Linked DNA regions of Homo sapiens: region 1 is linked to region 2. Evidence: fine-mapped expression QTL. A gene starts in region 2. The other region holds a variant in brackets. All regions are shown on one strand. Distances are between the middles of the regions. Region 1 overlaps SARM1 (sterile alpha and TIR motif containing 1). Region 2 holds the start of SARM1 (sterile alpha and TIR motif containing 1).

Evidence for each region.
Region 1: its variant is fine-mapped to the expression of SARM1 in whole blood (TOPMed, PIP above 0.99).

Annotation. Positions count from the first base shown.
Region 1 is chr17:28,388,290-28,401,831 of GRCh38, reverse strand. SARM1 (sterile alpha and TIR motif containing 1) reads right to left here. Exons shown (of 9, transcript NM_015077.4): 7 at 13,293-13,482; 8 at 5,806-5,927; 9 at 1-5,675. The coding sequence ends at 5,546. It overlaps SLC46A1 (solute carrier family 46 member 1), which reads left to right. Exons shown (of 5, transcript NM_080669.6): 4 at 1,066-1,222; 5 at 2,119-7,190. The coding sequence ends at 2,176. Among named protein-coding and RNA genes, the nearest start is that of SLC46A1, 11 kb to the left of the region's middle. RefSeq lists enhancers at 3,247-3,336, 4,101-4,784, 5,468-6,151. The variant C/T (reference allele first, on the strand shown) is at 3,583.
Region 2 is chr17:28,366,694-28,382,445 of GRCh38, reverse strand. It overlaps SARM1 (sterile alpha and TIR motif containing 1), which reads right to left and starts at 10,752. Exons shown (of 9, transcript NM_015077.4): 1 at 9,944-10,752; 2 at 625-1,243. The coding sequence starts at 10,413. VTN (vitronectin) reads left to right here and starts at 12,139. Exons shown (of 8, transcript NM_000638.4): 1 at 12,139-12,306; 2 at 12,400-12,519; 3 at 12,595-12,939; 4 at 13,018-13,157; 5 at 13,418-13,574; 6 at 13,773-13,925; 7 at 14,387-14,731; 8 at 14,965-15,162. The coding sequence starts at 12,243. The coding sequence ends at 15,077. RefSeq lists silencers at 2,190-2,390, 10,200-10,369, 10,690-11,019.

The sequences.
Region 1 (13,542 bases), 20 kb before region 2:
GAAACAGAGACCCAGGGGGTTACATTGGCTCACCCAAGGTTACTCAGTAAATGGTGGAGCTAGGATGCAAACCTACGTCTGTGTTTAAAAGCAGCTGGTCTCAGGATCTGGGTTTTAGTCCGAGCCCTGCCACAGGCCTGTTTCTTCATCTGTGATGTGGGTGGTTTGCTTTTGATGACATCACAGACCCCTCTAGATGTGACAGAATTTAATCTCAACTTCTGTTGGGTTGTTGCACATTTTGTAAACTGTGGGTTCTCCTGGTATATCTATAAAGAACAGCTTCTCCAGCCTCTGGGTCTTTATGCCCCAGTCTGGAAACATTCATCTTTTTCCATCTGTCCTGGAATGAGGATCTGATGATGACAGAGACTCTGGTGCCATACAGAGCCCACTGTGGGTTCTGGTGTCCCCAGAATCCATGTGTCTTCATTCATTCACCTAAACTTTTTTTCCCAGCACTTTCTCTGTGCCCAGAGATGTCAAGAGAAACAGGAGAAAAGAACAGCCCTTACTAACTAGCTACTTCCAGGGGACCAGGCCCAGTGATGGGTGATTTCCATGTGAACTTAATGTTGCTCACAATCTAGGAAATAGGTATTATCCTTATTTAGCAGAAGGAGGAACAGGAACCCAAAGGATAAGAAGCTATTCAGTGGTGACACCGCTATGAATATTGGAACTGATCAGACCAGCAGTTAATCCCAAACAGGAGATGATTCCAAAGAGGATAAACCAGAAAAAAGCCATTTCCATCAAGCTTTCATCAGACAATATCACATGTACTTTTTTTTTCTTTTATGTGCTGGGTTCTGTCAGATCACATGTACTTTTAATGTGGATTTAATAGCAGCCATTTGTTTAGTAGCCCCTCTGTGCCAGCTACTGTCCACATATGACCTTACTGAATCCTTGTCACAGTACATGATGTAGCAGGATTTACTGGTGAGGAAGGGGAGACATAGGTTAAGTGACTACTCCCGGTCACACAGCTGTGAGGTGGTGGTGCCAGAGTTGGAATATGGCCCTTTCGGACTCCAGAGTATGGTATTTATTTCTTCACAGGTGCTCTCTTTTCTGCTGTGGCCTGTGTGAATAGCCTGGCCATGCTGACGGCCTCCGGCATCTTCAACTCACTCTACCCAGCCACTCTGAACTTTATGAAGGGGTTCCCCTTCCTCCTGGGAGCTGGCCTCCTGCTCATCCCGGCTGTTCTGATTGGGTAATGCAGGGCCCTGAACCCATGCTCATAATGGAGCCCTTTCTCTTAAAAGTTTCCTCTTCTCCTCCCAACCAGAAATGGCAGCTTCATTCCTGGAATCCTTACCCTCTGGGTGTCTTGTCCCAGGTTGCCCCTCTCCTTGCAGATGGCTGCCTAATCCTCCAGGAGCCATTTTCCAAGGGCGAGATGGCGAGCTAGGTGGAGGAAGGATCAGGCTAACATTGCTGCTTGGCAAGGCTGTGTTCTCTCTCCCAGTTCCCCTATTTCCCTCCATTCCCATTTTATAGATGGAACTATGGCAGCAGAACTGTGTTAAAGGGAAGGCCAGGAAGCTTTGTCAGCTAGTTGTGGCTGGGCCACAGGCTAGCTTGACCCGCTGACTTTTTCCTGTATGATATTAAGAATTATATTTCATGGCCGGGCGTGGAGGCTCTTGCCTGTAATCCCGATCCTGTGGGAGGCTGAGGCAGGAGGACCACTTGAGCCCGGGAATTCAAGATCAGCCTGGGCAACATAGCAAGACCTTGTCTGTATAAAAAATTTAAAAAATCACCCAGGCATGGTGGTATGCACTGGTAGTCCCAGCTACTAAGGAGGCTGAGGCAGGAGGATCACTTGAGCCCAGGAGTTCAAGGGTACAGTGAGCTATGATTATGTCACTGCCCTCCAGCCTGGACAACAGAGCAAGACCCTGTCTCTTAAAAAAAAAAAAGTTATTTTCCAGAGCCATGTCCCTGGATATTGTCCTCCAGCTCTCAGCTTCTCAGCTTGGGGAAGGAGGAGGTTCAGGAGAGCTACCTGGACCAGCCCACCCCAGTAAATCCTGTGTCACTTCTCCAGACAGGCCTTGAGGGTTCCCCACATGAAATCCAAACTCTCTCTCTGGTCTCTCACAGGATGCTGGAAAAGGCTGATCCTCACCTCGAGTTCCAGCAGTTTCCCCAGAGCCCCTGATCTGCCTGGACCAGAAGACAGAGGGCAAGAGGAGCAAAGTGAACACCAAGCAACTGGAGGTCTGCAGCTGGAAGCCCAGCCCACAGCAGGACAAGCAACTCTTGTCTAAGGGCAGTGCTCTCTTTGGACGAGGTAGTCAAGAGAGACCAAGGCACCACCCCATCCACAGCTGACCCAGCCTCTGTCTAGGATCTAGAATCATAACCCACACAGGCCCACTGCAGGACAGGTGGCAGAGGAGCTATTTGGGACAGGAGTCAGTTCTCCCTTTCTGCTATCCATCACTTATAACCCCACAGGCCAGAGGAGAGGTCCTGAGAGAGGTGACACTTCAGGGACCAGAGGCAGCACGAGGGCTGGCATCTCTCCTTCCAGCCCAAACTGCACAGCCCCAACCAGGTTCCCAACACGTGTAGCAGTCATCAGCCATTCCTTAACAATGAATGTGGTACCTGGTTAGTGCCAGCCTTGGGAAGGAGGGAGGGAGGTAAGAGGGGCTTGGTGATCTCTGGAGGAAGAGTGTTGCCTTTGCTGTGGTTGGGGAATCGATCCTTGGCTATGGCCTACCCACTCCCCTGGCTGAAGAGTGCCAATCATTACAAATCAGCTTCAGCAAACTGAAACAAACCTTCTGGTGCCTTGGGCTTTGGGGCCCTCTGTTTTCCTGCTCCCAGTCTGCCTGCCATACGTTAGACAACAGAAGCTGCTGGGCTGGGCAGGAGCCCTGAGCTGCCTGGTGGATTGGTACCAAGTGGGGCCAGCCAGGGCTTCTACTGACTCGCTGTGCAACCTTGAGCAAGCCCCACTAGGAACGGCTAGATCAGCAATGCCCCAAATTGTTGAATCGTGGTGATCACATTTGGATGGACAAGTTAGGAAACTTAGCTGATTCTCTGAGATACTTCCCACTTCCTCATACATTCTACAATGAGATGCCTCTCTTCATGGGCCTGGGGAAAGGATGAATGAGTGTGGCTGGACTTTTGACCTTTAATGTCCCTGAGCAGTTCTTGGCCCTTGGGGAGAAGTAGGGGGAGGATCTGGCTGACTCAGCCCCAACCGAGGGGTAGCAGCTGCAGCCCAGCCAAGCAGAACACCCTGGCCCTACAGACCTGTGTCTGAGCAGGCTTTGGAGGAAAGGCCACTTCTGAGTCCTCTGTCTCAGGAGAAGCCAGGCCTAGGTGCTTGACCTGGTGATCTGAGCTGTGTTTGTCCTAGTATGGGTGGCAGTCACCTCTGAACACACTGGCCTTGGCTTAGAGGAGGCTTGTGACTTCAGCTGTTCCAGCTGGGGCTGGATGCTGGACTCTGATTCCCTCAGAGAGACAGAAGATCGGGCAGAGGTCAACCAGAAGGCCACACAGGGCAGTGGACAACAGTGGAGGGTATACCAAATAGAAATAAAA[C/T]GCAGGAAACCTCTCTGAATACTGCCCTTGGGGACCTCAGGAGGGAGTGGGACTGATTGGAGACAAAGAGCCAGAAATCATCCCCTGGAGATACTCAGACACTGTATTGTTATTGGCGCTGTCCTGTGAGGGCAGTGTCCAGGCTGCCCTGCTTGTCATATCCATGCCCTGGCTCTGGCCCCGGTGAGCACTTGTGCTGCATGAGGAAAGGAGGATCAGGTGGGGTCAAAACCAAAGCATCGAGGCTGGCACTGGCCAAGACAGACTCTGGCAGGGAGGGGAGTGGAAGGAAGGAGCCCCAAACCTGGAGTGAGACCTTTGACTTTCTGATGATGTGGCCAAGAACTAGGAGTCACCTGGCCAGCACAGCCAAGAGTGGGGCTGGGGGCGCAGCCAGCTTTAAGGTGTCAACACCTGGCCCTTGCGGGGAAAGAGCCTTCAGCAGCCCCCACGGCCTGGAGCCTGGGTTTATTGGAGGGTGCTTTCTTACCCTCTGAACCCAGTGGAGGAGGGGGCAATGGGATATTCCTGCTCTGTATGGCCTCTGGGTCAGCTTTTTGTTGCAAAATCCTATCCCCCGCTGCTAGATTCTTTGAAGCAAGGGAGAAGCAATAGCCCAGCCTCAGAATGATTCTCAGGAAAGCAATTCCACTGCCAGTGGACTGGGTGCCAGGAGGCCTAGGTCTGGATCTGGGGCTGCCACTAATGACAGGAAAGTGGGCTTATCCTCAACCTTTCTGAGCCTCAGTGTCATTATCTGTAAAATGGGGATGATAATACCAGGTAGAGTTGCTCTGATGACTGGAGACCATGGAGCGGAGTGTTTGGGAAATGGCAAAGATTTGTGAGGGCTTCGTGCTTTAGAGATTTGCTACCCTTAACCACCAGCATCAGCTCACCTGGGAATCTGTAAGAAATGCAGAGTCCTAGGCCCCACCCCAGATCTCCTGATTTTAACAACATTCCCAGGTGACTTGGATGCATGTTAAAGTTGGAGAAGCTGCCCTAAGTGACAACCCTTTGCCTTTTCAGGACTTTGCCTCTTTCCACAGAGCTGCAGGTTCTGTCTAGGCTGCTTTTACTGCCATGGGGGCTGCCTGGTCCCTGAGTAAGCAGTGGGTAGCCCTGGATGGCTGAGGGGCTGGGGAAGCCAGCTGGGCCAGACCAGGAAGGAGCCTGAGGCACAGCACCAAGGCATGGGGTAGGGTGGGCTTTGAGGCACGGCCTCCCCATGCCCAGACCCAGGCCCAAACAGGAGGCTCCTGTGCACCAGCAAGTGCAGCAAAGCTGGCTGCAGTGACAAGGAAGTCAGAGGGAGGGCTGGTTTGCCTCAACCCTCGCCCTGGATGTGGCAAAAGATACCACACCGAAGGAAGCTGTAGGGGATCTGGGACTTAGTCAGGCTAGCTAAGGGCACTGAGTGATTACAGGGCAAGGCCACAGAGCGGCAGGAAGTTGTAAGTGCAGGGGCCAGGCACAGTCTGAGTGGAGAGCCATGATGGCACTCATCCCTGGCTGGCTCCTGGGCCCAGGCCCTTGCTCAGAATACAGTGCCCAGGCCCGCCTGGGCATTGCCTTAATTCCTGTCTGAGGCTGCCTTCCGTCATCCTCCTCAAGCTGACTGCTATCAGCAGGAGAAGGGAATGCAGAACCACCCCCACCCCAACTCCAGTGTCTCCAGAACTGAGCAGGGACCCTCCCCATGACGGAGACAGACAACCCAATGGCAGGGCCTGGGGGAGTTCTAACCTCCCGTGCCCAAGCCTGACTTCCCTTCCCTCTCCAGATACTGAGGAAAGTGGGTTGGAGGTGGGCCATGAGGGTGGGGGACAGGGGGAGGGAGAGCCATTTCCTAAGAAGAGCCCAGGTTGTCTCAGCCCAGGGAGACTGGTTTCAGGAGCTGTTCCTTCAGAAAGGACGATGGAAATGGAAGTCACAGCAGGGCTGGGGAACTGGGGACTGGTTAGGTTGGACCCATGGGTGCAGCACCCTCCAAACTGGTGTCAGAGCCTGCAGATGAGTCCCGGGAGGAGCGGCCCTGCAGGAAGCGGATGATCTTCTCAATGGTGGCCTCCTGGTATTCGTGGGACCACCTGTGGGCACAGGAGCCAATGTGGTTCAGACAGCTGGGCAGAGGGAGCTGCTAGTCAGCTGTTTGCCCACACTCTGCCTGTCATGGTGATTTGTACCCTACCCCCCTGGTCCCAGGGCCCTGGGGCTCACTTGATACCGTTGAAAGTAAGCACAGCCTGCATGTCCTCAGGCAGGACCTGGGGCTCAGGCCACTCGAAGCCATCAATGATGGGCACAATGTTCTTGCCGCAGCTTAAAGCAGTCACAATCTCCTGGAGAAAGAAAGGAAAGGAGGAAGATACCCCTGTACCCATCTAGGGACCCTTGTAGCCAGGCAGGTGCTGGGAGGCCCACTGGCCCGAGGCTGGGCCCAGGGCAGGACACCAGTCCTGATGTCCACCTTGATGTCTACCTTAACCCTTGTAGTGTAATAAAAAATAAATATTTTTCCTTTGCCCAGAGTTCCTGGCACAGAGCTGCTAAAACCCTTGGAATCTCTTGAGTGATGAGTGTCTTTGTATGCTAAAGAGATGATTCCCCACTGGGGGCCCGGGGGGTGCTATGGGGGTAGCCTAGATAGTTTCAGGAAGAGGGCTGGTCACCAGGGAGACCAGGGCATGACTAGAGGATTGGAACTTTCAGCCCCACCTCCCAGCCTCCAGAGAGGTGCTGGAGATTGAGTTCAATCACCAATGGCCAATGATTTAATCAATCATGCCTACATAATGGAACCTCCATAAAAACCCCCAAACAAGGGGTTTTGAAGAGCCTCCAGGTTGATAAACAGGTGTAGGTGCTGGGAAGGTGGTAGAAGGCATGGCATCCACACCTCCACCCTCCATACGTAGAGATCCTATGTATCTCTTCCATTTGGCTATTCTTGAGCTGTGTCCTTTATAACTGTGAAATTAAATAATTCAGCTGGGCATGGTGGGTCACGCCTGTAATCCCAACACTTTGGGAGGCTGAGGCAGGAGGATCACTTGAGCCCAGGATTTTGAGATTAATAATATTATTTATTACTATTATTCAAGCTTTGTTAAATCAAACCTAAAGCTCTTGGAACTTTAAGTTATTCTGAGCCTTGACAGGAATTGGTCTCTGCAGCCTGAGTCATGGGGCATGCAGCTGCAACTTCCACCTATTTTTTTTTTTTCTGTAATTACTTAGGAAGACCAAATGGCACCAGAGATAAGACTCCCTTAGATCCCCACTTAGATCACCACCCTTTCTCAGGGGGTAATAAAGTCATCTTCCTTGGAATGTAGCAATCTATAACCAATCAAAGCACTGTAACATACGCACTGGTCTTGTATGGAAAATGTTGTAATCCTGCTAAAATTCCTCTCTCTTTGCCTGTGGAAGTGAAACCTTAACTTCTCCAGTTTGGAATGCTCACCCCATGCCTTTGGAGTCAATGCTTACTGGGTGGCTATTCTCAAACTTTGCACTCAAAGAAACTCTATACTTAGTCTTATTTTCTGAATCTCATTATTTAAGGTTGACATAATAAACAACTAATAGTAAGTAAAGTGCTTTCCTGAGTTCTGTGAGTCATTCTGGCAAATTGAATCTCGGGGTGTCATGGGCACCCCCGAATTTGTAGCCAAATCAAACAGAAATGTGGCAGCCTGGGGGCCTGGGCCTCGTGACTGACATTTCAGAATTGAATTGAATTGCGGGATACCCAGTTGGTGTTGGCAAGCTGGAGAATTAGTGGTTAGTGTGGGAAAAACCCCAAACAATTTGGTGTCAGAAGAAAAACATCACACTCCTGCGTACAGGTTGATCCATCATGCGCCCTGCCAATTGTACTCCTTACTTATTTCTCAAATCCACTATTTTTCCCTACCTCCACCCCACTACCACCCTCTTCCAATCCCCATTATCTTTAAGCCCCCACCAGGTCTTTCCTCATCCACGCTTGTCTTCTCTAATTCACTCTCCACATTGCCCTTTCATGTAGCTAATATTTGCAAAATGCACATCTGACAAATTAGGTCCTGTCACCCCCTACTTAAAATTCTTCAAGACTTTGCATGGTCTTAGAATAAAGTCCAAACTCCTTCATGTGGCCTGTGAGACCCTATGTGGTTGGCCACAGTCCACTTCTCAAACTCTACCCCTGCCCTGTCCTCCCAGACACACAAAATAAGCTTCCTTGTCCTTCCCCCTTGATAATGCCCATTCATTTTTCTGATCTGAGCTCAATCAACTCTTACACAGGGCAGTTGTCTCCCACTGCCCTGACCAAGTCAGTTCCCCTATTATAGGCTCTGCAGAACATATTATAGTTGCAAATTTTAATTAATTAATGGGTAAATTACTCAGTATTTGTCTTCTCTGCCAGACATGAGGAGGGATCATATCTATTTTTCACTGACCTTATATCTCAGCATCTTTCACAAAGCCCTTATAGTTAGCCCTTGCTAAATATTTAATAGATGGATGAATGAATGAATGAGAAAACATAGCACAGCAGTTAGGGCTGCACTCTGGAATCATCAAATCGGGGTTTGCACTGAGTCTCTGACACAGGCTCTACGACCTGAGGCAAAAATAATAGGTTCTCAAAGTCTCTGTTTTCTCTTTTCTTTCTTTCTTTTTTTTTTTTGGCGGGGGGCAGGGGAACAGGATCTCACTTTTTGCCCAGGCTGGAGGGCAGTGGCACCATCAAGGCTCACTGCAGCCTCAACCTCCTGGGCTCAAGCCATCCTCCCACCTCAGCCTCCCAAGTAGCTGGGACCACAGGCGTGTGCCACCATGTCCGGCTAATTTTTTGTATTTTTTAGTAGAGATGGGGTTTCACCATGTTGCCCAGGCTGGTCTCAAACTCCTGGCCTCAAGTGATCCTCCCACCTTAGCATCCCAAAGTGTTGGGATCACAGGCCTGCACTACCACACTCGTTCCTCTGTTTTCTAATATATAAAGCAGGATTAATGATAGTCCCTGTCTTCAGGATTGTTCCATGGAATAAGCGCAACATTCCATGGCAAGTAATTAGAACAGTGCTTTGCATGCAGTGTATGCTTAATACGTAATAGGTGTTATTATTTCCTCTTCTGTAAAGTGGGGATAATAAAACCTACCTCAAAGCGTTGTTCTGAGGAATTATTTGCTAGTAATCGGGTTCCATTAAGTGCTTATTGAATGTTTTTCTTCCTCTCAAGAGGGAACCAAAGGGATTTTACTTTTTTGAGTGCAGTTCACTTGTGGTTTTTCCCTATTGATTACCCACTAATGTGGCTTCAGGGAAAGGAGTTTTAAAACCAGAGGCAATTAAGCACCAGAAACAACCAAAGAGGGATGACGGAGCCTCTGGGGCCGGTCCAAGACAAAGGCTCCTCTCACCTCTTTGCCATCTGCTGGGACGACAAGGGGTGCCAAGCATTCTTGGGAAGTGGAGCCTTCCTGGGGAAAGAACATGCGTAACTTCGTCCTTGACTGGCTTCCTGGGGAGCCGCTCCATTTTACAGATGGAGAGAAAAAAGCCCAGAGAGGAAGGGATTTCCTCCTAAGCCACACACACGCCCAGCCCACGAGGGGCCGGTCCTCTGACTCAAGCCTCGAGAGTCCAAGTCCAGGCTGTTTCAGCCAAGCCCTGCTGCCTTTCTGCTGAGCATTGGAATGAATCCTGAGCCTGCAGCAATTTATTTGGAAATTTTTAGAAATTTGTTTCATCCAGAATTATACAAAACCAAAGACAGTACAAATTATTCATCGCACAGATTCAGAGGCTGGCCAAGAAAGGGATAATGGCGGCCGTGTGTGGTGGCTCATGTCTGTAATCCCAGCACTTTGGGAGGCCAAGGCGGGCGGATCACGAGGTCAGGAGATCGAGACCATCTTGGCCAAGATGGTGAAACCCCGTCTCTACTAAAAATATATATATATAAATTAGCTGGATATGGTGGCGTGTGCCTGTAGTCCCAGCTACTCAGGAGGCTGAGGCAGGGGAATCACTTGAACCCGGGAGGCGGAGGTTGCAGTGAGCCGACCAAGATCTCACCACTGCACTCCAACCTGGTGATAGAGCAAGACTGTGCCTCAAAAAAAAAAAAATAATTAAATAAATAAAAGAAAGGGATAATGGTTTGTTCAGGATCACCTAGCTGGTTGAGAACGAAAACAATTAGAGTCAAGTCCTCTGGCTGGGCACGGTGGCTCATGCCTCTAATCCCAGAACTTTGGGGAGCCGAGGCAGGCACTGAACTCCAGGCTTGAGCTCAGGAGTTCGGGACCAGCCTGGGTGACATAGCGAAACCCTATCTCTACTGGAAAAAAAAAAAAAAAAACGGAGTCAAGTCCTCTAACCTGGTAAATCTACTAGATATGTATGGCTCTCCCAGGCATGGCATCTCAGCTTCATCAGTATCACTTGTCTGCTTAATCATTGATTCAATTGTTCTATAAACTCCTCTACAGCCTCAGCCTCTCTCTCTCTCTCTTTTTTTTTTTTTTTTTTTTTGGTGCAATTGCATAGAGCCTCCTTTGTACCATGCATGGTTTTAGGCACCAGGGACACAGATGAATGAGGCAAGGTCTGAAGTCTCATGGAGCTCACAGACACTCTTTTCTTTCTCTCAAAAGGCTGCCTGCCACGTGCTCTGGGTTATCAGCCATGTTCTTCCTGGATGCTCAACTGCCCCAGTGCCCCTCCCCAAACCAGGCCTAGTACTCAGCCCCTCCTACATGGCCTCTGGGGCTTGACTCCACACTCCATGTGGACTGCATTCCAGTGTCAGAGCCTTCATCCTAAGACCCACCGCCCTGGCATCTTCTCCTTCATGGGCTCCTTGATTTCCAGTGCTTTAAGCACAGGTCTTCTCCTGCCTTTAGACACTGCTTTACCTGGTTTCCATGGTTCTTATCCAGCCAGTGGTGTGCTGCTAACTTTATAGTAACTAGCTATTCATGGGGGAAGAAAACCCAACCAGCCAATCAACCAAACTAACAAAACTTTGATTTGTAGTGGTTGCCAATTTCCTTGGTGTAAATACTCCCACCATGGCTGATGACAAGCTACCAACATGACATCACTGGATGTGGAGTTGTGAAGAGATACAATCATCTCTGGTGTCAACCGAATCCAGCCCTACCCCATCACCTCCCCTCACACCCCCTCAGAGCTGTGCCATAGAATGCAGTGTGGATCTTGGGAAAGTGATGAGCTTTGGAGTCAGATAGATGGAATTTGAAGCCTAGCTTTTCTGATTTCTACACTAGTAGTGCAGCCAGGGGAACATTATTCTACTTTTCTGAGCCTCAGTTTCTTCATCTGTGATATGGAGAAAGCAGTACCAAGATGTATGTGGGCTTTCAGCACTGTTCTCCTCCCTACCTTTATTCCTTTGCTCATGCTGTTACCCTGGCCTGGGATGCCTTCTATTCCACTTACCCAGATTCTTAAGATTCTTCTCAAGACCTGCTTCCTCCATGAAGTCTTCCCTGATTATTCCAGTCCTTTGAGGACTAAACTCTGATTTTTTTTTTTTTTATCTTGCCCAAATTCCTACCTAAGGAGCCTAGGGAGTCATGCCCTACAAACCATAAAGTCTTATCGGAGGAGGTTTTAATTTTAACCCTATATAGCGTGGTCTGCTTTCTAACCTGACTCTAGCATAACATCACATAATAAGGGAGGAAATAAAAATATTTTAACCCCAAATATATTTCCCTGCCATATCTTGAAATTGCTCCACAAGTTTGTCTCTTGTGGGAAAAGGCCACATTCTATAGAGAATCCCCTTCCCCCCATTTTTTTCTTTTTCTTTCCGGACTCAGGAGATAATCAACAAAGAGCCAGGCACCCTTATAAGTCTGATAAGAAACATTTTATAACCTACTCCCTCTGAAGTCTGCCCTGAGAACTTCCTCTGCACAATAAAACTTGGTCTCCACAACCCTTTATCTTAACCTAAACATTCCCTTTCTATTGATCCCAGGTCTTCAGATAAACTCAATTAATTATCAACTGGAAAAATTTAAAATTTACCTATAGCCTGGAAGCCCCTGCTTTGAGCTGTCCTGCCTTTCTGAACCAAACCAATGTACATCTTAAATGTATTGATTGATGTCTCGTGTCTCCCAAAAATGTATAAAACCAAACTGTGCCCTGATCACCTTGGGCACGTGTTCTCAGGGTCTCCTGAGGGCTGTGTCACAGGCCATGGTCGCTCATAGAGTCTGACTCTTTTCGTTGACACCTTGATGCTCTCTCCCTTCTCCAAACCCCTGTGGCAAGCAAGATGTTTGCTTACCTGGCTCAGCATTTACACCAACTTGTATGCGATCTAGTCATTTTGAGACAGGGTCCCACTCTGTTGCCCAAGCTGGAGTGCAGTGGTGTGATCTCCGTCTTCTGGGCCCAAGCGATTCCCCTGCCTCAGTCTCCTGAGTAGCTGGGATTACAGGTGTGCGCCACCATGCCTGGCTAATTTTTGTATTTTTTTAGTAGAGACAAGGTTTCACCATGTTGCCCAGGCTGGTCTCGAACTCCTGACCTCAAGTGATCCTCCTGCCTCAGCCTCCCAAAGTGCTGGGATTACGGGTGTGAACCACTGTGCCCAGCCCTCTGGGCATATTCTTGTCTCTGAGCTGACTGCTTGTCTCATCCTGTCTCTTAGATGACTACTGCATCCCTCAGCCCCAACTCCAATTCCTACTGACCGATTAATGATTAATAACCTGAAGATGCAATATGGAGCTATCCATCAATGCATTCTGTTAGTATTCAATAAGTTCCTACAATGCGTCAGGCACTGAAAATACAATGATGAATTAAACAGATATAGTAGTTATAATAATTATATTAATAATAATAATTGCTACCATTATTGAGCAGTTACTATGTGCCAGCCATTCTGCTAAGCACTTCACAAATTTTGGCTTTTTTAGTCCTTATAACAATGTTCTAGGGAGTTAGATACTATTATTATACCCTCTTTCCAGAAATAAATATGAAGCTTATCGGGGTTAAGTAACTTGCCCAAGGCCAGAGCCAGGATTCAAACTCTCAGTTTTGAGCTCTCAACAACTATTCCATTCTGCCTGTCGCTATGCTCTCCTGTCTCTCATGGAATTTATTTTTCAAAGCATTTTTATGTCTCTCTGATCCTCACAACAGTTCTATAAGGTGAGTGGAACAGGTAAGTTACCCCATTTTGCAGAAAAGAAAACTGAGGCTCACATCCTGGCTAACACGGTGAAACCCTGTCTCTACTAAAAATACAAAAAAATTAGCCAGCCGTGGTGGCGGGCACCTGTAGTCCCAGCTACTCGGGAGGCTGAGGGAGGAGAATGGTGTGAACCCGGGAGGTGGAGCTTGCAGTGAGCCAAGATCACGCCATTGCACTCCAGCCTGAGTGACAGAGCGAGACTCTACCTCAAAAACAAAAAAAAAAAAAAAAGAAAAAGAAAACTGAGGCTCAGAGAGCCAAAGCCTAGTCTCTTGTCCCTTGTGGTTTGCTAAAGTCCTATTACAGTCAGAGCTGTGGTTCCTGACTTCCAGCTGGGCCAAGGAGGTGCTTCAGGGCTAAGTGTGCCGGGATGTGCAGACAAGAAGGAATAGAAGACGACCCTATCTTCTGGACCACAGGCCAATGCTGGGACCGCAGAAGCATAGGCAGGCACCTACCTTATGCACCCAATCCTTGCAGTCATGGTCTTGCATGCACTTGTCCAGTGCTCCAGGTGATAGCACCAACACAAAGTTGCGGGCACCCATGACACTCTGGATGAGTTTGTCCTCGAACTTGCCTGCTTCCAGCTTCTCCACATCAATGAAGACACTGAAGCCATGCAGCTGCAGGTGCACCTTCAGGAGACTGCAAGTAAGTCCTGTGTCAGTGCCACAGCCTTGTCCCCACGCCCCGTCGCTGCCCGCC
Region 2 (15,752 bases):
GCCATCTTGACTCCAGACTCAAAAGGCTACACTACCCACTGAAGCTCCCCAGCTGGGCATCTCTCAGGCATCTCAAACTCCATATGTCCTGCAGAAGTCACTTTCTTCCCCTTCCCCACTTCCACTTGTCTCTCACCCAGTTCACTTTATTCATTGCCTATGTTCAGGGCCAGGAGTCATCCTCAGCTCCTCTTTCTCCTTCTCCCAGCCACCAAGTGCTAACTCCATCTCTTAAACATCTCTTGAATCTGCTCTCTGCCACTGGCATCGCTGTCTCCCCCTTCCCCCAACGCCCACCCCTGCAAGTCATAGTTTTTTATTGGGTTGCCTTGCCTCCGTCCTCACCCTTGCCAAGCCCCTTTCCACACAGCAGCTAGGATGATCTTTGTAAAACACAAGTGTCCCCTTGCTTAAAAGCTTCTTAGTGTCTTCCTCTTGCCCCCAAAACCAAGTCCAAACTTCGGGTTTGCCTTCAACGCCAAAATGACTGGCCCGCTCCTCCTTTGTCTTGCTTCATCTAATTCTGATGTGTATTTCAAGACCCGGTTGAATGTGACTTCCTCTGGGAAACCTTCCCAAAGGCTCTCTAACCCCTGATCCACCCAACCCCACATCTGCACCCACCTTGGTCTTGCCTTGCAGGCTCTTGATGGCAGCCTCGGCGCAGAGGTAGAAAGCCCCGATGCACTGCGCCTCCAAGCGGTTAGAGTCGAGCAACGGCACGAGGCGCTGCAGGTCGTCGGGCCCGCGGCCCTGGCTTGTGTCGCTGGCGTCCACCAGACAGCGGGCGAAGCGGCCAGGGTCCAGCGAGGCCACAAGCGGCTCCACGAGCGCCAGCGTGCCCGAGCGCTCCACCTCGCGCTCCACCTCCTTGTTAGTCGCCAACACCGCTACTGCGAGGCAGGCGTGCAGCCGAAGCAGCTCGTCCTCCTTGGAGAAGGCGAGCGGGAAGAGCCACTCGGCTGCGCGCTTCTCTACCATGCGTCGCTGCACCGCCTGGCCCCCGTGCAGCGCGCAGTTGCCCAGCGCCAGCGCGCAGTGGCGCAGCAGCGCGGGGTCCGTGCGGCGGCACCAATACAGCACCGCGTCCAGGCCGCCGGCCGCCACCAGCCTCTGGCATGTCTCCTCCGAATGCTTGAACATGTGCTCCAAGATGCCTGCCACGCTCCGCGCCAGCTCTACGGGTTCGCGTTCCTTCGCCAGGTTCAGGATCACGCCCAGCCCAATGCGCGCCACGCGGTCTCTGCCCAGTGAAAGTGGAAGGGGACAGTGGAATTGCCGCAGCTTGGGGAGCTTGGCTTGCCCGTTTGGGGCCTGGTCACTAACCCTCTCTGGGCCTCACCGGCCTCATATAGGGGAGAGCATTCCCCTCCCTGCTCCCCACCCTCATCTCCTCCCCTGGGAGGACCCCACTTCTCGGATTCTAAGGGTGCTCTATTCTGGCCATAGCCGTTCTCCCCCTCCCTCCTCCCCTTGAGAGGCAGTATGTGTGGTGGCTAAGAGCCTCAGCTCAGGAGCAGATCCCCTGGGTCCTGGTTTCTTCTCAGCCCGTTTTCTAACTGGGATAAAGGAGACCTTTGGGCAGCTTCCTTTATCTCTCTACCTTGCTTTCCTTATCTCATAAATAGAAAATAGAAATACCTGCCTCATAGGATTATTATCAGGACTAATGAGATAAGCCTTATAGAGTGCTTGGCACAATGCCTGGCACATGGTAAAAACTCAACAAATATTAACTTGTCCTAATTTGAAGTGTCACTTGAAGCACACCACTCTTAGCCTTGCCTTTTCCTCACTCCATGGCCCATGACCGGGGCATATCTATTCATTCATTCAACAGATGCTTCCTGAGGACGTCCCCTGTGCCAGCCACTGCACTAGGGGCTGAGGTTTAACAGAGACTGGCCAGAGCTTATCCTCAGGGCGATGGAGGAAGACATAGACAAGAAAACAATGAGTGAACCAGATCGTAGTGATAGGGCCTTGGCGCTAGCAAAACAGGATGATGTAATGGCGTGTGCCTGGAGGAGGGGTATGTGGGAAGAGGTGACATCTAAGCTTAATGTGAAGAAATCCCTGTGTGCAAATATCTGGGAGGAGCATAACAGGCAGAGAGAGGAGCAAGGATGAAGGCCTGAGGGCAGAGGAGCTGACGTGTTTGAGGAATAGAAAGAATGCCAGAGGTATTGCGATGTCTAAAACCAAAAAGGGAAAATATAAAACCAGGCTGGGCAAGGTGGCTCATGCCTGTAGAATGCTTGGCACAATGCCTGGCACATGGAGGCCAAGGTGGGAGGCTCACTTGAGACCATCCTGGACAACAAAGTGAGACCCTGTGTCAAAAGAAAAAAAAAAAAAAGAGAGAGAGAGACAGAAAAAAAAAAAAAAGAAAAGAAAAAAATCAATGAGGGGTTTATATGTAGAATATATCAGCAAATATTCAAATCAAGAAGAAAAAGGCAACAAATTCAAAAGAAAATGGGCAAAGGACATAAACAGGCAATTGACAAGAGGAAATCCAAAATTTGAAAAACCAGATAAAGAGATGCTCTAACTCATTAGTAATCAGAGAAATGAAAATTAAAACAATAGCTATCGCTACCTGAAATGTTCTTCAACAAAATCCGCTTCATGGTTCGTCATTCCAATGTCTGCTCAAATGTTACTTCCTTCCAATCATCCAATCTAAAGGCTTTTCCCCATCACTTTCTAACTCATTACCTTATTTTATTGTCTTCAGGGCATTTAATATCTGATATTATATTAATAGTCTACTTGTTTGTTAGTTCCATAGACCAGAAACCTTATCTGTCATTTTCTTTCTTAAAATGATCTAGGCCGGGTGCGGTGGCTCACGCCTGTAATCCCAGCACTTTGGGAGGCCGAGGCGGGTGGATGACAAGGTCAGGAGCTCGAGACCATCCTGGCTAACATGGTGAAACCCTGTCCCTACTAAAAATACAAAAAATTAGCCGGGCGTGGTGGCGGGTGCCTGTAGTCCTAGCTGCTCAGGAGGCTGAGGCAGGAAACTGGTGTGAACCCAGGAGGCGGAGCTTGCAGTGAGCCAAGATGGCACCACTGCACTCCAGCCTGGGCAACAGAGCGAGACTCCGTCTCAAAAAAAAAAAAAAAAAAAAAAAAAAAAAGATCTAAATGGAGAAAATTACCCTTTCCTAGAGTTTCTTCACCTAAATCATTTTATTTTATTTCAAAGGCCATTCCCACTCTCCTTTGTCCCTGACCACTCTCCACACACATACCTTGAATAAAATGTTCACTGGCAGAAAACAAGCAAACAGAAAACCAGCTACCACTTTACACCTGTTAGATGGGCAAAATCAGAAGCTGAACAATACAGGCAACCTCTCCCAAAGAGATTGTCATATAGATAGAGAAAAGCACTTAGACAAGGATGTTCACTGCAGTGTCATTTGTAGTGTGAGGAAGTTGGAGGCAATCAGTATCAAGCTTGGGGAGAGTCAGGTAACATGGGCAGGTGCCTACTCTGTAGGATTTGCAGGGAGGTCCAAGTGACTGAGCAGGTGATAACACAGCAACACGAACCTGGACAACATAGCCTGGGCAACATAGCAAAACCCTGTCTCTACAAAATCAAAAAAATTAGCCATGTATGGTGGCACAGGCCTGTAGTCCCAGCTACCTGAGAGGCTGAGGCAGGATGATAGTTTGAGCCCAGTAGGTTGAGGCTACAGCGAGTCATGATTGGGCCACTGCACTCCAGCCTGGGCATCAGAGCAAGACCCTGTCTCAAAACAAACAAACAAACAAAAAACCCAAAAAACAAAAAACAAAAACAAAAACAAAAAAACCAATAAAACCCAACACTGAGTGGGAAAAAGTAAGAAATAGAATGTGCTATATGACACAGCACTATTAATATACATTAAAAATACATGCACACAAGACCAAGAATAAAGATTTAAAGATTTTAGCAGAACACAGATAGAAAGATACACATTAGATATACTGAATGGTTCCTTATGGAGTTAGGGCAAGAGAATAGTGTGGGCATTAGTCAGGAGGAGAAGGAGAGATTGCATTTCAGTTGCATTTCAGGCACAGGTATATGCAAAGAGTTGGAGGTGTTGGAGAGCTGGTGCACTTGGGGAGCTGCCCACACTTCCATGGCTGAGGCAGAAGATTCAAGGGGAGAGTGTGAAAAGAGATCGGACCTGGGGACCTTTTGAGGCACCTCAAGGCATTTGTAGTTTATCTTGATGTCAAAGAGAAGCCACTGAAAACTCTCAGGGAGGGGAGTGGCCTGGCCATATTTGGGTTTTAGAAAATTCACTCTGGCTGTGGTGGAGAGGACAGATCCAACAGAGAGAACTTGGAGGCCTGCTGAGCAGGTGGGAGAGTTGCCACATCCTGGTAGAGGTTCAGGCTTCCTGCCTTACTGACCTCCACAAATGATGTCTTCCACAGATGGCCGGGCGCAGTGGCTCATGCCTGTAATCCCAGCACTTTGGGAGGCTGAGGCAGGAGGATCACTTGAGGTCAGGAGTTCAAGACCAGCCTGGCCAACATGGTGAAACCCCATCTCTACTAAAATTACAAAAATTAGCCAGGTGTAGTGGTGTGCGCTTGTAATCCCAGCTACTCAGGAGGCTGAGATAGGAGAAACACTTGAACCCAGGAGGCAGAGGTTGCAGTGAGCCGAGGTTATACCACTGCTCTCCAGCCTGGGTGACACAGTGAGACTCCGTCTAAAAAAAAAAAGTGATGTCCTCCACAGGTGACATTACTGCCAAAGAGGTAGAGGCCTAGCCAGCAATGGAGTCCTTGCCCAAAGGGCACCACAGTGACCATAGTGCATGTGATTTTGTGTCCACTGCAGAACCTACCTGAGTCCGGAACATGCCATAAGCTCACAGCTCACTGCAGCCTTGGCCACCTAGGTTAAATTCATCCTCCCAACTCAGCCACCTGAGTAGCTGGGACTACAGGCATGTACCACCATGTCTGGCTGATTTTTTTTGTTTTGTTTTCTTTTACTTTGTAGAGACAGGATCCCATTATATTGCCCAGGCTGGTCTCAAACTCCTGGGCTCAAACAATCCTCCCACTTCGGCCTCCCAAAGCGCTGGGAATACAGGCATGAACCACCTCACCTGGCCCAGTTATTCCTTTTACCAATGAGAAAACCAAAACTCAGAGAGGGTACATGACATGCCCAGAGTCACACAGTTTCTGAGAGGCACAGCTGAGATTTGAACCCAGATCTGCCTGTCTCCAGAGTTCAAGATCCTTCACCTTCATTTTGCGTTTCTAGACATCTGACTGCATAAATGCCTAGAATGTAAGAGCCAGGATATGTTTAAGAAATATCTAATGTGGCCAGGTGCGGTAGCTCACGCCTGTAATCCCAACACTTTGGGAGGCTGAGGTGGGCAGATCACTTGAGGTCAGGAGTTCGAGACCAGCCTGGCCAACATGGTGAAACTCCATCTCTATTAAAAATGCAAAAACTAACTGGGCGTGGTAGCAGGTGCCTGTAATCCCAGCTACTTGGGAGGCTGAGGCATGAGAATCACTTGAGCCTGGGAGGCAGAGGTTGCAGTGAGCCCAAGATCGTGCCACTGCACTCCAGCCTGGGTGATAGAGGGAGACTCCATCTCAAAAAATGAAAAATAAAATAAGAAAATTATTTAATCTGGCTGAATGCAGTGGCTCATGTCTGTAATTCCAGTACTTTGGGAGGCCAAGGCAGTAGGATTGCTTGAGTCCAGGAGTTTGAGACCAGCCTGGGCAACATAGAAAGACCCTGTCTCTACCAAAAACAAAAACAAAAACAAAAGATAAGAAGGAAATTATCTAATCCAACACCCTTACTTTTTCTTTTCTTTTTTTTCTTGACAGGATCTCACTCTGTCACCCAGGCTGGAGTGCAGTGGCGCAATCTCAGCTCGCTGCAACCTCCACCTCCTGGGTTCAACTGATTCTCATGTCTCAGCCTCCCAAGTAGCTGGGATTACAGACATGTACAACCACACCTGGCTCTTTTTTTTTTTTTTTTTTTTTGTATTTTTAGTAGAGACAGAGTTTTACCATGTTGGCCAGGCGGTCTTGAACTCCTGACCTCAAACGATTCGCCTGCCTTGGCCTCCCAAAGTGCTGAGATTACAGGCGTGAGCCACCGCCCCTGGCCAGCCAACACTCTCATTTTCAGAGGACTTACCTGAGGCCCAGCGAAGGGAAGGACTTGCTCAGGAACATATCAATTCAGACCTAGGACTTTATTTTGAGTCTCCTGATGCCCCAGCCCTCACTTTTCCCTATGCACCTGGCACCTTTACAGAGTGGAACTGTGCTGCACTCTTGTGATAACTACTCACCCAGCTCCCAGTTCTTCTGTGGTCTGAGAGGCTGTGGGTCTGGTGAAATGGGCAGATATTTTAGAATTACACAGGTCTGGATTCAAATCCCAGCTCCAAAGGAGGGGAAGATTGTATATATATTGCAAACATGTCTATATAATATACATGCAAATGCCTGTATATGCAGAGACTCTCTCTGGAAGGATATACAAGAAACTTGTTATAGTGGTTTATCTCCAGAGAGGGGGTCTGGTTGAGAAGAACTTTTAAAAAATTTTTAATTTAATTTTAAAAAATTGAGACAGGGCTCTCACTATGCTGCCCAGGCTGGTCTCAATCAAACTCCTGGGCTCAAGTAATCCTTCTGTCTCAGCCTCCTAAAGTTCTGAGATTACAGGCATGAGCCACCATGCCTGGCTGAGAATAACTTTTAACTGTATACCTTTTGTGTGCTTTTCCACTTTTTTGAATTTATGTGCAATGGCTTTCGTGATTTTTTTTTTTTTTTTTTTTAGATGGAGTCTCACTCTTGCCCAGGCTGGAGTGCAGCGGCACGATCTCGGCTCACTGCAACCTCCACCTCCCTGGTTCAAACAATTCCCCTGCCTCAGCCTCCAGAGTAGCTGGGATTACAGGCACACGTCATCAAGCCCGGCTAATTTTTTGTATTTTTAGTAGAGACGGGGTTTCACCATGTTGGCCAGAGTGGTCTCGAACTCCTGACCTCAGGCAATCTCCCGCCTGGGCCTCCCAAAGTGCTGGGATTACAGGCATGAGACACTGCTCCTGGCCGCCTTTCTGTGATTTCAAAAACCTGTCTCCTCCATTTATTCATTGAATATTCCTGGGAAAGCCATTTAACTACTCTGAGGATAGCTTCATTAAGATCCCCTGAAGGGGGTGGACTGTGAATATAGAGGGCTAGCAGTCATATGGGGACCTCACTGGGTGTTGTGGGGCCAGATTTGAAGAGCCATATTCTGTTGGACTTCTGGTAGTTGGAAGTCAGGAAAACTGTGACCTAGGCTCCTTGACAATGGGTGCAATAGCATCCTGAGAAGAAGAAAGCAAGAGGGAAGTGGCAAAAAGGGGTAGGCACACTGATGGAATTGTTTTTTTTTTTTTTTTTTTTTTTTTGACAAGGTCTGGCTCTGTCACTGAGGCTGGAAAGCAGTGGCATGATCTCAGCTCATTGTGACCTCCGCCTCCTGGGCTCAAGCCATCCTCCCACCTCAGCCTCCTGAGTAGCTGGGACTGTGCATGCCATCACGCCCGGCTAATCTGTATATTTTTTGTAGAGATGGGTTTTTGCCATGTTGCCCAGGCTGGTCTTGAACTCCTGGCCTCAAGTGATCCACCCACCTCAGCTTCCCAAAGTGCTGGAATTACAGGCATGAACCACCATGCTTGCCCAGAAGAGCCTTCTTTGAGATGAGGCAGTGGGGGCTTGGTTGGTGAAGGAGAAAAACATTTCATAAATTCGCAGTGTGTCACTCCCCTTCTCTTCTTTCCAGCCCCATTCTCATGCAGCCTACAAGGGGTGCAGGGACCCTCCCCTTCTTTTTTCTTTTGAGATGGAGTCTCACTCTGTTGCCAAGGCTGGAGTGCAGTGGCGCGCTCTCAGCTCACTGCAGCCTCTGCCTGCCGAGTTCCAGCAATTCTCCTGCCTCAGCCTCCAGAGTAGCTGGGGTTACAGGCACACACCACGCACCACCACCATGCCTGGCTAATTTTTGTGTTTCACTTGACCTCAGGTGATCTGCCTGCCTTGGCCTCCCAAAGTGCTAGGATTATAGACAGTGCCTTTTTTTTTTTTTTTTTTTTTTGAGACGAGTCTTGCTCTGTCATCCAGCGTGGGGTGGAGTGCAATGGCACAATCTCGGCTCCCTGCAACCTCCACCTCCCGGGTTCTGTGCGATTCTTCCACCTCAGTCTCCCCAGTAGCTGGGATTACAGATGCCCGCCACCATGCCCAGCTAATTTTTGTATTTTTTTTTTTTTTTAGTAGAGACAGGGTTTCACCATGTTGGCCAGGCTGGTCTCGAACCCCTGACCTCAGGTGATCCACCCGCCTGGGCCTCCCAAAGTGCTGGGATTACAGGCGTGAGCCACGGCGCCTGGCGGGGATCCTGCCTTTCTTTGGAAGTATTGTGATAGCAACCACGCACGTTGTGCTCTGTCCTTGGTCCTGAAGAGACCAGCGTGCGTTTCTTGAGACCAGGGACACTGGTTAGTGACTCTTCTCTCGGTAACTCTGAACCAGGTGAGAATTGCCATTTTTAACCTTGAGATATAGCAGTACTGTTTGCATCTTGCAACCCTCCTCTCCTTGGGCTGCTGGCTGTACTCACTCTCCAGGGATTGTAGTTATAGCTCCTGACTCCACATAGCAAGCCTGCAGGGCACACCTACCAGCCTTGACCCCACCACACCCAGTGAGCACATATTTTATTTGCTACCCCCTCCAAATTCATGGCCTATCCCCATCATGGCAACGGATGTCAGATGGGAGGTTAATGGCTTGCCAAATAAGCAGAACCCTATCTTGGTCTCCCAACCTAAATTGCTTCATTCATGCATTTTTGACAGTTGTATCTTTCCACCAATCACCAGGTAATTTTTTTCTTTTCGAAAATGGCAAGGAAAACACCCCCAACCCACTCCCTTCACACTTGTGAGAGCTGCATGAGCTGAAAGTGACTCTTCCAAAAACTCTTCTAAGCTTGAGAAGCTGGAGACTTCAGCATGAGACTGGAGTGTGACAGCTTGGTCTGCTCTGGCATCAGAAGGGAGGGAAAGTGAGTCCTTGGAGGTCTTCATACTCCAGGAGAGATCCCAAGAGACATGCAAGAGTGGCAACCAGGCCTCTGTTTGACCCTCTTGCGGCATCTTGGTGCTAAGTGGGGTGAAGGGAGAGAACACACACTCTGCCTGGTCCCCGCCGGGCTCTGCACCCCGGTGTCCTCTTCCCCCACCCATGCCTCCCAGCAGAAAACTGTTTCCCATCAGCAGCTGCAGAATGAGATCATGTCTGGCCTGTTGCAAGAACCAGAATGAAGGATGGAGCAGAAGTTGGATTGGGGCGGCAAGAAGGGAGTAAGCAGCCTCAGGCCAGCACGCCTTACAGCCTGGGGAGGAGGGAAAGGAGAGGTCTCCCTCCCTCTTTTCTGAGCGTTGTGTTTCCCTTCTTCTCTCATTGGGAGAGGGATGGGATGATGGCGAGAGAAGGTGTCATAGACGGGAACCCAAGCCGGTGGGAAGGAGAGCTGTGGGCTTGGGGGGCGGGGGAGAGGGAGAATTGGCAATAGGATGCCATCTCCATCCATAGAGCCAGGGACGGACTCCTGTCCTGTAACTCCATTCCTCACCCCACTAGCCCTGGGAGCAAATCTTAGTTCACTGTGATCCACTGAGCAAGTCACTAAACTTTCCCAAGGCTCAGTTTCCTTATCTGTGAAACAGACAGGCTGACCCCTAACAGAGATGTAGTGCAGGCAGTCAGAGAGGTGAGGGAGGCAAAGGCACGGCGCAAGGCACACGGGAACGCAGGCGCTTAACTGTCCACACCACGCGGCGCTCTCCCAACCCCGGCCTGGCGCGCTCACCGGTTCTCAGCCACCAGGATCTGCTCCAGCAGGCGCGCGGCCTGCACACGCGTCTCCAACTCCGGCGCCTGCAGCAGCCGCAACAGCAGGTCGAGGCCGCCATCGAGGCGGATGGCGTCGCACAGACCCTGGGCTACCTCGCGGCCCACGGCCGGCAGCAGCCAGGCCTCCTCCACCAGTTGGAAGACCTCGGCCAGGCCGGCGCCCACGGCCCGCGCGCCGCCCGCCTGCTTCAGCGCGGACAAGGCCTGCTGCAGCTCCGGCAGCGCGCGCTCCAGGGCGTCCTGCACCTCGGTGCCTGCCCCCGGCGACACTTCGCGGGGCCCGCGGCCACCCGCAGCCCACCATGGGCCCGTGCCACCGCCCCCATCTGGCCCAGGCACCGCCAGCCGCTCGGCGCCCGGCCGTGGGCCCGACATGGCGAAGAAGCGACACAGCTTGTAGGCGGAGAGAAGCAGCGTCAGGACCATGGGCGCGGGGCCGCGGGGGACATCCCCGGCCTGGAGGCGGGGCCACGCGGAGAGACCCGGGTTTTGGGAAAAGAGGGACCCGAGAGGGGTCGGGGAAAGAAGATGGAGGGGGAGGAATGGAGAGAAGGGTACCAGGCAAGGGTGCCGGTCAGAAGTTTGGGGGAGGAGTGTCGGCAGGATCGGGGGAGCGGTTGGCAAAGGTGATGCAGGCCCAGATGCAGGGAGTGGGCGAAAGGAGAGAGCGAGCAGGCGAGGGATGGCTCCGGACGCCGTAGGGTAGAGGAGGCGGCGGCTGGAACAAAGCGTGGCCTGGGCACGGGCTCGGCTGAGCTGGGAGATGCTCGGCAGCAGCCACGCCCCGGAGGAGCAGCGGTCCCCGGCCGACGCCCCGCCTCTGGGTCCCGCGGGGCTCCTCCAGCCTCCTGCAGCCACGCCCCGGAGGAGCAGTGGTCCCCGGGCCGACGCCCCGCCTCTGGGTCCCGCGGGGCTCCTCCAGCCTCCTGCGCAGCCCCACCCCCAAGCCGTCCCCAGCCACGCCCACGCCCCTGGCCAGCCTTCCCTAGCCCCTCAGTCAGTCGCAGCCACCTCCCCCTGCGCTGGACTTGGAGGAAGGGGGTGGAGAATGAGAGGACGCTCTCCGTTCTCCGCCCCGCCTCCCCGCCCCACGTGACATCGGTACGTGGGAGCAACACCGCTGGATGCCCCCTCCCTACTAAATGGTTAAAACAATCATCATAACTCTTAAGGCCCTTTTATGGCTGTTTCTTAGCGAAACCTCACAACATGCCTATGGGGTGGGAATTGATGTTCCATTCCACAGCTGACTCCACTGAAGCCCATGAGGAAGAAATTGGCCCAAATCACAGTCCCCTCTGATTACAGAACAGAAAAAGTCAGCTAAAATCTCAGGATCACTTTTTTCAGGTGATGGGAGGATTTCAGAAGTTCTGTGGACACCTGAAATTGGGCACAAAATCAGGTGTTTCATGCCAGTGGGCATTTTCCAGGTAGAGGGATCATATTTCTCTCGAGAGTCTAAAAGTGTGTTGAACAAGCCCACTCTTTACAGATGGGGAGACTGAGCCTGGGGACAGGGAGTGGCCTGCTCAGAAAAGACTCAGAAATTAAATCCAGTCCAGTGGGTTGATATTTACCCAAATTTCCAGCCTGGGGAGATTGATGCACCCAAGAGAAGAACCCAGAAATGAAACTTTGTTCTTTTATGCTAAAAAATAAAATTCCCCAGAGTGCTTACAATCTCTCCTCCCACTCCCTTTTTCCTGCCCTAAATAAATAATGGCGAATGAGCACCCAGCCAGGGATGTGTCTGATCAAACAATCATGGATCAATAGCTATGTTTGGAGAAGGAATTTGTGGCTGCTCCAGCTACTGGGCATTTTGTCTGGTCCAGTTCATGTAATCTCCCAACACCCCATGAAGCAAGGCTTTGTTAATCCTATTTTACTGAAAATGAACTAAGACTCAGAGAGATAAAGCTGTTGCCCAATGAGCCTTCTTTCTGCCCTCCAGATCCACGGTGCTAATTCCCCTTCCGATGACCTAATGATTCTGAGCTTGGCAAAGGTCTTATCTCCCAGCTCGCCCAGGCCCAGTGTTCCAGGAATGTGACCTTTGCTGCAGCAGCCGCTGGAGGGGGCAGAGGGGATGGGCTGGAGGTTGAGCAAACAGAGCAGCAGAAAAGGCAGTTCCTCTTCTCCAGTGCCCTCCTTCCCTGTCTCTGCCTCTCCCTCCCTTCCTCAGGCATCAGAGCGGAGACTTCAGGGAGACCAGAGCCCAGCTTGCCAGGCACTGAGCTAGAAGCCCTGCCATGGCACCCCTGAGACCCCTTCTCATACTGGCCCTGCTGGCATGGGTTGCTCTGGCTGACCAAGGTACAGGGGAGTGTTGGTGGCCATCTGGGTCAATGTAGGGAGGGCGAGGGTGGTCTGGGCTTGGTGGCACCGACTGACACTCCTTCCTCATAGAGTCATGCAAGGGCCGCTGCACTGAGGGCTTCAACGTGGACAAGAAGTGCCAGTGTGACGAGCTCTGCTCTTACTACCAGAGCTGCTGCACAGACTATACGGCTGAGTGCAAGCCCCAAGGTGTGTTCAGAGCCCAGGTGGGTGGGCTGGGGTGCCCCCTGCTGCTGGAGACTCACTACCATCCACTCTCTGCAGTGACTCGCGGGGATGTGTTCACTATGCCGGAGGATGAGTACACGGTCTATGACGATGGCGAGGAGAAAAACAATGCCACTGTCCATGAACAGGTGGGGGGCCCCTCCCTGACCTCTGACCTCCAGGCCCAGTCCAAAGGGAATCCTGAGCAGACACCTGTTCTGAAACCTGAGGAAGAGGCCCCTGCGCCTGAGGTGGGCGCCTCTAAGCCTGAGGGGATAGACTCAAGGCCTGAGACCCTTCATCCAGGGAGACCTCAGCCCCCAGCAGAGGAGGAGCTGTGCAGTGGGAAGCCCTTCGACGCCTTCACCGACCTCAAGAACGGTTCCCTCTTTGCCTTCCGAGGTGAATCCAGGGCAGGTACTGGGGATGCGGGTCTGCCCCAGGAGCGTCCCTGCTCTCACACCATCTCCTCCACTCTAGGGCAGTACTGCTATGAACTGGACGAAAAGGCAGTGAGGCCTGGGTACCCCAAGCTCATCCGAGATGTCTGGGGCATCGAGGGCCCCATCGATGCCGCCTTCACCCGCATCAACTGTCAGGGGAAGACCTACCTCTTCAAGGTGCCAGGGGCTGTGGGCCAGGGTAGAAAGCATCTAGGGAGGGTTTGAGAGCTATTGCTCCCAGGGACAGGGTGGACAGGGAAGCTGGACCCAGGGCCCTGCAGGACCTGGTGGGAGCTCTGTGAGCACAGGGCAGCCCCAAGACTCCAGGTCCTGGGCAGTGAACCTGGACCTGGGAACGGCTGCCTTAGGGCAAGGGACTCTGCCTCTGTGCCCAGCCAGCGGCCTCCATACCCCTTTTCACTTTCCCCACCTCTTAGGGTAGTCAGTACTGGCGCTTTGAGGATGGTGTCCTGGACCCTGATTACCCCCGAAATATCTCTGACGGCTTCGATGGCATCCCGGACAACGTGGATGCAGCCTTGGCCCTCCCTGCCCATAGCTACAGTGGCCGGGAGCGGGTCTACTTCTTCAAGGGTACTCAGGGGGTGGTGGGAGACTGAGCAGGCAGTGGAGCAGTCTTGGATTCCTTTCACATTTCACTGGGGACAGGCCTCAGCATGTGCCCACCCCTGACCCCCACCTCATGCTGGGAGATCCTAACTTCAACAGCCTCTGGGATCTCCAGTCTTGCCCTGGCCCAGCCCTCCTAATGCCCACCACCCTGCTCCTCAGGGAAACAGTACTGGGAGTACCAGTTCCAGCACCAGCCCAGTCAGGAGGAGTGTGAAGGCAGCTCCCTGTCGGCTGTGTTTGAACACTTTGCCATGATGCAGCGGGACAGCTGGGAGGACATCTTCGAGCTTCTCTTCTGGGGCAGAACCTCTGGTATGGAGAGAGGGCAAGTCTTGCTTCTCCCTCAAAAGGGCTGAAACCCCTTGGTATTGGTAGAGCCAGGCCGGCTGGAGGGGGCTGTGGTTGTGGAGCTATCGATCAAAGTCTGTTTGCTCAGGCCAGACTTTGCTTCTGTTGACCTTTTGGGGAAAGCTCAGCTCTACCTGGACCCCACACCTTGGACTTTGCCTAGCACAGCTGAGAGCACAGCCAGCAGAGGGAGGGGCTGTGGCTGAGGAGTTTAGGGGGCCTGGGGGGGTGGGGTCGAGACACCAGTGATATGGTGGAGGGAAAGCACAGGGGGAAGGGAATTGGACTGAGAGTCAAAGGCCTGGCTCTGCCATTCGCTGCTGTGTGTCTTTGGGCAAGGTGCAGCAGATGAACTCTAATGGCCCCGCTGGAAGGGGCAAGATTCGGACCCCCAAGACCTCTCATTCACCCCTTCCCTGCCACAGCTGGTACCAGACAGCCCCAGTTCATTAGCCGGGACTGGCACGGTGTGCCAGGGCAAGTGGACGCAGCCATGGCTGGCCGCATCTACATCTCAGGCATGGCACCCCGCCCCTCCTTGGCCAAGAAACAAAGGTTTAGGCATCGCAACCGCAAAGGCTACCGTTCACAACGAGGCCACAGCCGTGGCCGCAACCAGAACTCCCGCCGGCCATCCCGCGCCACGTGGCTGTCCTTGTTCTCCAGTGAGGAGAGCAACTTGGGAGCCAACAACTATGATGACTACAGGATGGACTGGCTTGTGCCTGCCACCTGTGAACCCATCCAGAGTGTCTTCTTCTTCTCTGGAGGTAGGAGCCGCTGCCACCCCTGAAGCTGGTCTAGCTTGGGTTTTCCTTGCTGTCCCTGGTGCACAAGGGCTGAACGCAGCCTGCAAGTAGTGACCACAGAAAGCCAGGCCAGAAGTCCTTAGCTGCATCATGGATGTTCACTTTCCCTTCTGGGAGAGACCCTAGACTTCTCAAGGGAAGAGTGGGCAGGGCCAGGCTGGGCCTCACGCATCCTCTGCTTTCCTCTCTTCCAGACAAGTACTACCGAGTCAATCTTCGCACACGGCGAGTGGACACTGTGGACCCTCCCTACCCACGCTCCATCGCTCAGTACTGGCTGGGCTGCCCAGCTCCTGGCCATCTGTAGGAGTCAGAGCCCACATGGCCGGGCCCTCTGTAGCTCCCTCCTCCCATCTCCTTCCCCCAGCCCAATAAAGGTCCCTTAGCCCCGAGTTTAAAATTATTGTTCTGACTGGGGTAGACACATCCCTGTCTGGGTAAAGGAGAGGAAGCTGGACTGTCAGAATGGGTTGGTGAGGGGGACAGAGAAGGGACAGAGAAGGGCCTCGCCGTGTCCAACCCATGTTGGGCTCAGGACCTCTCTGTGCTCAGGACCTCTCTGTGAACCGGTTTGGGGCTGGGGAAGGCCTCCTGAGAGCTACCCTTCCTCTTGAGCTAAGCAGCCCCCAGCAACCCACCAGCAGCTAAGCAGACACTTGAACTCCTCTGATGATGACAAAGTTACCAGGCCAGCCTCCGTGGGTGAGGCTTGCTTTGCCCCTTGGAGTTGACTAGGGTCTTGGAGGAGAGAGAAGGGGCAAGAGTTGGTGGGGTTCTGGCTCAGCTTTTTTGTCCATCCTGATCTGAAATCCTAGTAGCTCTGACTCCTGAGCACTTGGGGAACCAGTCACTGTGCTTCCCCAAACCCACCCCTAGGGTGAGCCTTTCTTGAGGTCTCTGTCTAGGGTCTAGGATGGGGAGCAGCAAGACCAGGAGAGATAGTGAAGGGCAGAAACTGAAAGGAAATTCAAAAGCACACACT